Regions from separate parts of the Homo sapiens genome. Here region 2 is linked to region 1. Evidence: fine-mapped expression QTL. A gene starts in region 1. The other region holds a variant in brackets. All regions are shown on one strand. Distances are between the middles of the regions.

Region 1 (5,372 bases):
GTTTGAATTATGGAGCTGGGGGGCTGCGAGGTGAAGATGGACTAGAGGAGAACAAGGTGACTTTTCACCCCAACACATTTAACTTTTAAATCCAAATAAACGTCTCGTGTTACTAGACCATCACACTGGAAAGGAGAAAAAAAATGAACTAATCAAGTCCAACTCGATGGGCTTAGGAGTTAGCTGCCTTTGTTATAGGAAAAAAAATCCAAATGAACTGATTCCTAGCAGAGAGAGAAGCATTTAAAAATAAACAAGAGGGGGGACATCTTGAAATTTTTGTCAAATATTAATTACCATAATTAATTAAGACAGAATATGATTCCAATCACAAGACATTTAATAAAGCATATATGTCCTGTTCTAATGACAACATAAACTATTTTACCAATCGCTTCATTCATTCCAATAAATATGGAATTCTCATTAGCATGTCAAGGAAACTCAATGGAAAACAAATACACGAGATCCATTTGTCAGTGCCCTTGCCTCTGAAGCCCAGGACAACCCAGGCCCAGCAGTGAAAACTCGTGCAGAGGCATAAACTTTCTCACCTGTTTGGTCATTGAATCTATGAGGCGAACATACAGATCTTGCTCTGTTCTGACTCCTGCAAAAAAACAGAGACAAATTCTCATCAGGATTTGAGTGCTGCACCTCGGGGAGGGCACACGGAGCACAGGAAGTCTGTAACTCAGGACTGCTGCCACGGTGATGCAGCAGAACTTAGGCAATCCCTTTGAAAGGGAGAAAGAGAACCCCACCACTTCTCGCTTAATTTTTTTTTTCTTTTCTTAACTAAGAACCTTAAGGCTCTTAGGGCTTGCATTTCAAGGTGCAAGGAACTTGCCTGGTGGAGAGCAGGCCTGGTAGCTGTGTGCGGTGGGCCCATGTGGTCGTTTATTTTTAGAAAAGAAAAAGCACCAAATGGAAACTGAGTGAGAGGCTGAACTCTTTCTAATGTCTCTCGAGGATTTAAAAAAAAAAAACTCGTTCACAGGAAGTAAGTTATGCTCCGTTTATGGAGTTACCCCCATCCTAATAATTAACATTAATTTGCAAAATTGAAAAAAGTCACTTAAAAGTGATGTTCTGCTGGAGCCCGTATCGATCTTTTTCTTACTTTCTACTTCAAGCCCCACCGGTTAATCATGTGAAGTGCCATCGACTTATTGATCGTTTATGTTTTGTTTTCCTTCTATGCCATGAGAAGATTTCGTGTTTACATCCATGTCATTTTAATCTCAAATCTTTATGTCCTTTCACCAGCGCAGAAAAGGAGAGCCAGCCGCTGCAGGGGCGGCGAGCACGCAGCAGGCACTTACCGTTGCTGTACAATAACTGGAGTTTATAGTGGATGCCGTTGTTGGTTTTCTCGTTGTTTGGCTCCTGAAAGTAACGATAAATAATTGCATTTAGTGCGATCGGTGTCAGGCGCGGCCACCACGCTCGGTCCCCCTCCGCGACCGAGGCTCTCGGCCTCACACATGGCAGGATTCCTAGCTCGAAGCAGCGCGGTGATGTCACTTTCCTGCTGGAAGCCCAGCGTTCTCCTCGCCCCGAGTAAGTCCGAGGGCGCAGAGAAGTTGCCCAGCCCTCGGCGGTCCCGGGCGGCCGCACGTGGCGGCGGCGGGGTGGCCTGGCGGAGCCGAGCCCGCCGCCTAGGGGGGCACTCGAACCCCCGCGCACCGGCACCGCCTGCCTCCCGCTTCTAGAAAGAGAGAGGGTGTGATCGTGTGTTTGCACTTACTTTCTCTTTCTCCACAAAGTCCACAAAAGCGGTCCTTTCAATCTCCACCGGCTGCCCCTGCCTATCGTAGAGCGCCAGCACGAAGTGGAAGAAATTGGATTTCCGGAGGTTGGAAGGCGGCTGCTTCTCGAAGTGCGCCCGCGCCAGCCCCACGCCGCTGCGGGAGGAAAGAGACAGCGGCCCGGTGAGGAGCGCGGCGCCGGCCGGCGGAGGGGGCCGGGCCGGGCCGGGGCCGGGGCCAGGGCGCGCGGGGGCGGCCGGTACGTACCTCTGGGCGGCCGTGTTGGCGTCCACCACGCCCGCCGTGTGCATCCACGAGCGCACCGGGTTCATGCCGCTGCCCAGCGGCTCCTCCTTCATGGTCGTCCCCCCGCGCGGAATATTCTCCTGAATCCCAAACATGAAAACTGCTGGCGGCGGCCGCAGCTCCCGGCCGAAAGCGTTTCCTCGAGCAGCGGCGCTCGGGGCTTGGCGGCAGGCGGCTGCCCTGGCCGCCCTCGCCCTGCTCGGCGCCTGCGGTCCGGCCCCGCCGCCGGCTTCAGCCCGTCCCGGGCAGGCGCGACATACACCAGCGGCCGGGCGCTCCGGACGGCCAGGGGCGCGGAGGCGGCTCCACCGGCGGCGGCGGCGCTTCGAAGGAGCAGGACGCGGTGGCCGCGGCGGCGCTTGTTGTTGTTGTTGTTTGCAGGCGCGCTCAACGTGGTGTCATCCTAGCCAGGCGGCGTCCGCGGCTGCAGGACACTGCGGGATCGCCCGCTTCTGGCGCGGCCCGCCTGCTCCAAAGACAAATAAACGGGGCAGTGAGTGCTGCGGCGCAGTCCCGGGCGCAGGCGGGGCGCGGCGGGGCCTGGAGCGGCGCGCGCAGCGGACGGAGGCGCACAAAACTCAGCCCTCTCTCCCCGAGGAATGGACCCTTTCCCGGGAGCCAAAACTCGAAGCCCCCGGGAGCGGCGCTGTCAGAGGGTGACGTCGGGGGGCGGTGCCTGCGCCATATATGGGAGCGGCCGCCCCTCGCCGCGCCCCTCGCCGCCGCCGCCGCCGCGCTCGCCGACTGACTGCCTGACGGCGCCGCGAGCCGGCCCGAGCCCCGCGAGCCCCGCGAGCCCCGCCGCCGCCGAGCGCCACCGAGCGCCGCCGCCGCCCCCCGCCACGCACCGCGGCTCCTCGCGTCCAGCCGCGGCCAAGGAAGTTACTACTCGCCCAAATAAATCTTGAAAAGAAACAAACGCAGCCACTGCACAATTGCAGTTTGGCCCCTTAATACCTCCCTGCAAAACCTGCCACACAGTCGAACACGATGGGCGGGGCGGGGGGCTGTAAAATGCTGAGGCGCCCCAAGTTGCCCAGATGCATGCAATAAATGCAAGGGGCTGCAGCTTGTCCTGGGGCCGCCCGAAGGAGAAGTGGGAAGAGGCAGGTCGACCGCAGGGAGGGCGCCGGAGGGAGGAGCGGGCAACGGACTGGGAGGAGGGGTGCCCAGGGCTCCCCGGCCAAGGCTGGACGCGCAGCTCAGCCTGATTTCTAAGCAGACCTAAGGCTGCTGCAGGGCCGGCCGGTCCCGGTCTGAGCCCCGCCAGGTACCCCAAGCTTCCTACCCCGGCGGAGGCCGCCGAGTGCCGGGCAGGGAATCACGTCGGAGGCAGGGTCTGCCAGATGCTCCCTCTCCCCCGGTGGCCGCGGCAGACCCCGGCCCCTGGCCTGTTCTTACGCACAGCGAGTGACAAAGAAGGCTCCGGTCTCTCCGGGCCGACGGGAAGCGCGCCCGGCCTCTCCGGCGACCCGGAGCCGGGTGTCTGGCTGCGCGACCTGCGCGGTGGCCAGACCGCCCTGGAGCCAACTGCTCCAAAAACCAAGCGGACGCCGCGGGCGCTGTGGCCCGGCCCTCGGAGCCGCCGGACCCGGGTGAGCGCGCGGCGCGCGGCTTCCCGACCTGGTTTCTAGGAATCGGGAGGGCAGCCGGGCGCGGGCAGACTGTGGGCCCCGCGGCCCAGCTCCTGTAGCCGGGACTCCGCGCCCAGGAGCGCGGCCCGCCCAAAGGACGTCTGCGCGACACGGAGCAGAGACCCAGGGGACGACCAGGAACTGTCCTAGGCACTTCCCTGCCAAGAGAAATCAGGCCCTTTTGATTAAAAGAAAAAAAAAAAAAAGATTGCAGGGCGCAAGTGTGTTGCAGGGCAGCCTCCTCCCGCCGGGTCTGGGGCAGCACTCCCTTTTCCCGTGAATTGGCAGCGTGTGTACGTTAATATTTTAATTAATCGGGAAAGTCGAAGTCCGATTCACGTTGTCTGGGGACCCCCACGCCTCTTGGAAGGAGTGAGAAAAAAGATGTGTTGGAAAGAGATCTATTTTGCTGGTGTTGGGGGTTAATGACTATTGCCAAAGATAAGTGAATTATCAAAGCTGTTGCGCCAGTCCCATCTCAAAATCCATTACGGTGCCGGCCGTCTAATTAAATACGTAAGTATAATAAAATCATATTTTATGACTATTTGAGGGTAATGAGATTAGTCTTTAGAAGCGATAGCCACATATTAAAGATGCCACTGTCTATAGAATGTTAATAACCTTAAATCAAAGTGTATGGAAACTGTTCATGATAAATTAAAAGAAAATTTCTGTATTCCTAATAAGCCCAGCGCTTTCCACTCTCGGCAGACACTGGTGTAGGAGGGAACACTTTCTTCGTGGAGAAACAACGCAAAATAAAGTTGGCCATCGAGGGAGGGTGGGGTTGAGAAACGCTTTGTCTCTGCGTGTTTAGCTGCTTCGGGGGCTCACGCAGGGCAAGCGGCCAGGCAAGCGTTATTGTCAGAATATGCAAAGTGCCTTTTCGGGAAAGATGAAGTTGGAAATAGGAAACAATGCTTCCTTTATAGCACACTTCCTAAAATGTCCAGCCTGTGCTAGAGGTGCCCCTTCCTTGCGCTAACGAAAGTATCATGCTTAAAATCATTTACAGTATCTTTAATTCAGATTACACGCGCCAAGGCGATTTAAATCTGATTACCAAATTAGAAGGTTTAAAAACAAATCCTTCTAAATCTGATACTGTTGACTAAAGAGGAAAAAAAAGTTCTATAAGCCCATCACATAAGGTAACGATCCTGCCCCAGAAAGAAAAGGGGTTTTAAACCTTTTTGACAACAAATGCAGCTGCCCCACTATTTTGGACGATATTAAGCGAAAATGAATGCAAATCTGTGTTCAGCAGCCATCTGGCCCGAAATGGGGGAATCAGCTGCTCTCACAACAGGCTCGGAGGCTGAATCCATTTCAGCTCATTTTCTAGATCATCTGGTCCCGCACCCAAAGCGTGGAAAATACGGTCTTTATCATTCACCAACTTTATCTTTTTTGTCACTCCGCTGCTGGCTCCGAGCTGTGGGCACAAGGACTCGCCTACCGGGCAGGGTCTCCACCTCGGCCTGCTGCGGAGCGGCCTGGGAGGGTACCCCCTGGTCCCCCACCCCATCCCACCCTCAGATTTTCGACTTGATGGGGCAGGAGCAGCAGCAGAGGGGAGCAAGGGACACCGCAGCCAGGCCAGGGATGGGGAAGGGGGCTGCAGGCCAAATCCCAAGTGTCCTGAGTAACGCTGGGAGCGCGTCCCGGCGCTTGGCCA
Region 2 (5,372 bases), 170 kb before region 1:
TGTTGGTGTGGGTGGGGAAAGGGAATGCTTCTACACTGCTGGTGGGAAGGTCAATTAGTACAACCACTATGGAAAACAGTATGGAGATTCCCTACAGAACTAAAAGCAGATCTACCATTCGATCCAGCAATCCCACTCCTGGGTATCAACCCAAAGGAAAAGAAGTCATTATATGAAAAAGACACTTGCACACATATGTTTATAGCAGTGCAATTCACAATTGCAAAGATGTGGAACCAACCTAAGTGCCCATCAACCAATAAGTGGATAAGGAAAATGTGGTGTCTATACACCATGGAATACTACTGAGCCGTTAAAAGGAATGAAATAATGTATTTTGCAGCAACTTGGGTGGAGCTGGAAGCCATTATTCTAAGTGAAGTAACCCAGGAGTGAAAACTAAAAACCATACATTCTCGCTTATAAGTGGGAGCTAAGCTATGAATCCACAAAGGCATACAGAGTGATACGGACTTTAGAGACTCAGAAGCGGGAGGGTGGGAAGCAGGCTAGGGATGAAAAAAAAAAAAAGAAAAAACTACACATTAGGTACAACGGACACCACTCGGGTGATGGGTGCAATAAAATCTCAGAATTCACCGCTCTGTAATTCATCCATGAAACCAAAAACCACTTGTACCCCAAAAGCTATTGAAATTCAAAACTTAAATAAATGATGCCACATCGTTAGCCACGGGAGCTTATTTCTCAACTACAGTGAAATGCCACAAGCCTCCCCTTCTCCCGAGTCTCCCTTCTGTGATGTGGCATTTGAGACAGCATCCCAGGGCAGTGGTGGTGCCCAACTTATTACTAAGCTGCATTATTTGGTAAGTCAGAGATGGATCGCTTCTAAACAAGCTTACCCTTTTCCATAAAGATTAAAACACCACCACCAAAAAAGAACGAGATTTTTTTGAAGAAACAAACCCAGGCTGCAGGCCGAGGGAGCTGTCAGCATCGTTCATCCTCATGTTCGCTGGGCTGGGGGGAGGAACTGGCAGCTGTTCGCCAGTGATTCAGTTTTCTTCGTTGTGTGTTTCGTAAGTGGTTTTTAACCAGGCGCCCTTAAAATGTATTATTGTTAGAAAATAAACCAAGAAAGAAGGGATGGTAATTTAGTACTAGGAAGTTAATTCTGGAGGCCTCCAACCTTTCAGCAGTCATGTGGCTATTGATTTTCAATACCATGAGGTGGCGGCCACCCTAGGCGTGGGGTTCAGTGGATTCCAAACAGTTTCTCCCTTATCAGTTGAGTCCCTGAGTACTTGAGCATTAAGACAACAAATGTCCGGAGTTAACGGCGTGTCACATGGCAGCTGGGTGGACGTGCCAATTTTCTAATGAAGTTGGGTTGTTGGCAAACACACCAGTCATCATATATTGAAGGAGGTCTTCTTTTGTGTATTTCCAGCACTCTTGAGTGCTTCGAAAGATACCAGTTACATCATTGTCTGAGGGCCAGGCACCAAGGGAGAAACATCCGTCCCCTGCCAAGACAAACACAAGCAAAAGCAGAGTTAAAACCAAAATGGGGCTGGGTTTTCTTGGAGGTGTTGGAAATGTTTTTTCCAGTTGTGCTTAATGGGGGGATATTCGGAAGGAAAGCAGGGGCTCCTAAGTCCTCGTTTCTCTGCAACAAGAGGCACCAGGGTCTTTCCTTGCTCCCAACTTAGCTTGCACTCTGTGCGGGAGAATCAGCCTCATTTTTCTTCACATTGAAGAAAAACAGTCAATGCATTTTGGGTCCAAACCACTGTGTAGTGGAGGGATGACACAGGCTCTCAGATAAGCTGACCGCATCTATACCTCAGCAGACTCTGGGAGATCCTCACCATCTCTGCCCTCTTCCTCCACTCCCCACCAATAATAAATTAGGGCTGCCATCTTGTATTGATTACTGAAAATGTTATGTCCATGGGAAGAAAATGCCATTTCTTTAAATATCAACATTACAAGAGATTTAAATGCTTTGTTTTCTTTTGTTTTACAGAAATGTGTGTGTGAAAAAATTTTAAGCAATTGAAAGGAGCCGGGGTGTGGTGGGAAGAATTATTAAATAATAAAAAAAAAATCAATCCTCAGTTTGGCCTGGCCAGACGAGTGTTTCTCGGCTCAGG[T/A]AAGTAGTTTAAAGTCAGACATGTCTCATACTGGACTTTTTACAGGAATGGCAAAACTTATAATGAAATTCAACAAGGAAACTGGAAAAACAGCCAAATTGGTGCAGCAAAGTGGTTAATAGGATCATTAGCCTACTCGCTGTATTTTTTTGGACATTGTGTGCCTGTACTGCCGCACTCGAGAGCAGATTGCAGGAACAGGCTGACAGTTAGGAGCTAGCTCAGCAGTGCTGGGTACAAACTGCCATCTTCCTGTGGATTTACAGCTGCCACTTCTGCTACTTCAATTAGTTCTATGGCACACAGATGTTGCTTAAATGTTGCTGCTAATGATACTGCAATAAGCGTAAGATTCATGCCATATTTTGAGGCACGTAAATTTCTCAAGTGGCACAATTAAAGTGGAAATATTAGGTGGTGAGAACTTGGCAGTCTCTCCAACTTGGAAGGCGCACCCGCTATGCAATAATGGGTCAAAAATTCATTCAAGTTTTACTGCTGTTCCGAGTTTTAAAAGACTTTTCACAGTTGAATGCAAAGTAGTAAAAACCAGGGTATTAGGAAATGAGAATGCAGTTCTGTTATTCAGACATGACTTTTAATTTCAAATTGAAATCACATGCTCACTTTTCTGGATATGACCGAAGGGAAAAGGTACAGGCTGAAGAGATTTTGTCTTTAAGGGTAAAAGTCCCGAGTGGAAATGAATTTATTGCTGGGCCAGCCTCAAAATCAGCACTGTCCATGACTGAGGAAGTGTGGCGATCGCCTCCCACCCAGAGAAGCAGCCGCATTTGTACTGGAAGCCAAGTTCATCAGCAGCTCTCTCTCTATCCACCCCCGGACAGGGTCTCAAACCAGGGACTGGAGAAGTGTGTTGGGACAGGCACACACATGCACACATGTGCACACACTGTGTGTCCCACCAACACAACGCATGCACATTCACACACACACACTTGGTCTCTGCCTCATACACACATGCACACACACTTGGTCTCAGCCTGTTACACATTCACGCACACACGCTCCATCTCTCCCTCCTACACGTGCACACTCGCACATGCATGCACGGTCTCTGCCTCTTACACAGGTAGAGAAGAAAAAGACAAGTGGGCTTCCAGGAGTCTCACTTCTGCCTGCACGGAGTCTCCATTAGTATTTCTCTCCCTCATTTATCATCCCGGGCACAGTCCCCTGCCTGTCGCCAAATTTTCTTTTCCATGAAAAATCTCTCCTTCGGAGAAGAGCTTCTCCCTGACTGGTTGTCAAATACGCTTTTGATTTTCTCACACACCGACTTAAAAGGCAGGCGGTTCAGGGCAAAGCCGGCACCCAGTAGGCCTTTCTGCTTCTCGAATCTTTGACTGTGCAGGTTGTTCCCCCACCCCCACCCCATTTTAACTTATTGATTTGAACTGTCAAGTAAATGACTCCGTTGCACTTAATCAGAATCATAGACTTCTGCCATCCCAATTAGAATTCGAGGCCATGCACCGGAGCTCCACATGTGTGGCTCTGCTGGAGGGCTGGGCACAGCCCCTGCACCTAGGGCTCTCTGGTGCGATGGTTTGCAGGATAAATCCTGCCCTGGGAGCAAAGGCCATCTGCAGTAGGCATGCAAGCCGATGCTGTCCTGTAGGTATTTGCCAAATATTTATTTTTCCCTGAAATGATGCAAACGATTTGGTGAAGCCTTCCCATGACCAATTCAGGATGCGGAATGATTTAGCATTCAGTAAATTTCACAACACCTTTCTGCCTCCCTCTTCCCTCTCCCCTCTCCCCTTCTCCCCACCTCACCCCACCTCACCCCCTCCCTCTTCCTTCCTCTTTTCCTTCCCTCCTCCTTTCTTTTTTACCCTCTCCTGCCCCTGACCCGGTACCTATACCACTTGGATTATTTACAGCAAATCTTACAGATGTCAGTATTGTCTTGTTCTGAAGCTAAAAAGGACAATGAGTTCCCGCTGACCTCGGTACAATGGATCTCGCTGGAGCACAATATGTATTTTATACAGGCAGTGAAAAGCCTACAAGTAATTGAGAGAGAGAGAAATGTCACTGTAGCATTTCTGTTGACACTGCACTCTGCGTGTGGAGGGAAGCCCGGGGCCTGGCGGCAGAGGAGCAGCCGCAGCCGCGCTGTGCACCCAGGAACCTGTCCTTCAGGAAGGAGGCGGCGGTAGAAATTAATCTGCTCAGATTTTCCAACTAATGAAGTATTCCCAGGACCGAAGGGGCCACACAGAGACGTCTGCGGCGCTGCTTCCCATTCGCGCAGATGCACACGGATTCCGGGCCCAGCGCTAACTCGGATGTGTTTTCCAGCTCCGTTTATTGTCTTCCATAATGCTTAACGTACTGTTTGTATATGTTGTCCTTGCACTATATTTTGATATGCTCTCATATATTTTATTCATCTCTGGCTTTCTACGAAGGCAAGCTCGCAGCAACACTGAGAATAATTATTCTCCGCCATCAATCAAGAGTCTCCGTGGTTGGCTCCTCATGGGATGGCCTTGATTTTAAGCATGAAATGTAACTCTTGCTCTTTGGGGCCATTTCATTCTTTGTTCCTGGGGCCTGCCTGTGGGCTCGTCGGGACACTAGAGAGCAGGCATTCCCGTGGCCGCGGGAGAGCCGCGTTCCTGGCTGGCCATTCCCGGGCCCTCTAGAAGGGAGCGGCTGAGAGCTCTTTAGCCCTACTTGGGGTTTAAAAGTGAAAAAGGAGCAGCTCTTCCTGGTGGAAATTGCGAGCAGAGGCTGCGTGAGTTCCGTAACTCGCACACAGCCTCCATTTGGAGCCAGAATGAGCACGTGAGGGACCCCGGGCAGAGGGGCCAGTGCTGACATTATGCTCCATGCAACCTCCCATCCTGTTGTGGGAGATGGTGCAGACCAGGGGAGGGAGTCAGTGTGTGAGGGGATGAGGCTCCAGTCCTTTCCTGGGCACCAAAGCCAAATCCCCCCTGAGCACAAGGATCTTCCCTGGGTGACTGCAGAAGCAAGGAGACCTGGCCCACCGTCCCTGCTGGCTTCCTACTGCCCAGCCGCGTCTCTGCCTCCCTACCCCAAAGCCTGCAGCTCCTAAGTGCACTATTTGGGCTGTCTTGTTTGCAGCGGATGTTTGAAAGACAGACCCTCTTCTCTAGTGCTGGCCTTGAGTCCTCAGAGAGCTGCTGTTTCCTGGGTTTCTAGCTCCATGGAGGCAGAAAGAGACCCCAGGGTGGCCTTTGGAGGAAGATGAGC

Alleles and levels. Positions count from the first base shown, and alleles are read on the strand shown. Sizes are in standard deviations (SD) of each study's normalised expression.
With allele A in place of T in region 2, the expression in spleen of the gene that starts at base 2,658 in region 1 is lower (large effect, 0.80 SD a copy in GTEx).

The links. PIP is the estimated chance that this variant, and not a neighbour inherited with it, causes the effect.
Region 2: its variant is fine-mapped to the expression of EBF3 in spleen (GTEx, PIP above 0.99). The same link has a PIP of 0.9 or more in cerebellar hemisphere, liver, ovary and testis.

Annotation. Positions count from the first base shown.
Region 1 is chr10:129,961,617-129,966,988 of GRCh38, forward strand. EBF3 (EBF transcription factor 3) reads right to left here and starts at 2,658. Exons shown (of 17, transcript NM_001375380.1): 1 at 2,019-2,658; 2 at 1,751-1,907; 3 at 1,326-1,389; 4 at 555-610. The coding sequence starts at 2,152. RefSeq lists enhancers at 2,785-3,756, 4,792-5,372.
Region 2 is chr10:129,789,916-129,795,287 of GRCh38, forward strand. LOC107984281 (a long non-coding RNA gene) reads left to right here. Exons shown (of 11, transcript NR_186705.1): 3 at 1,994-2,119. Among named protein-coding and RNA genes, the nearest start is that of MIR4297, 51 kb to the right of the region's middle. The variant T/A (reference allele first, on the strand shown) is at 2,121.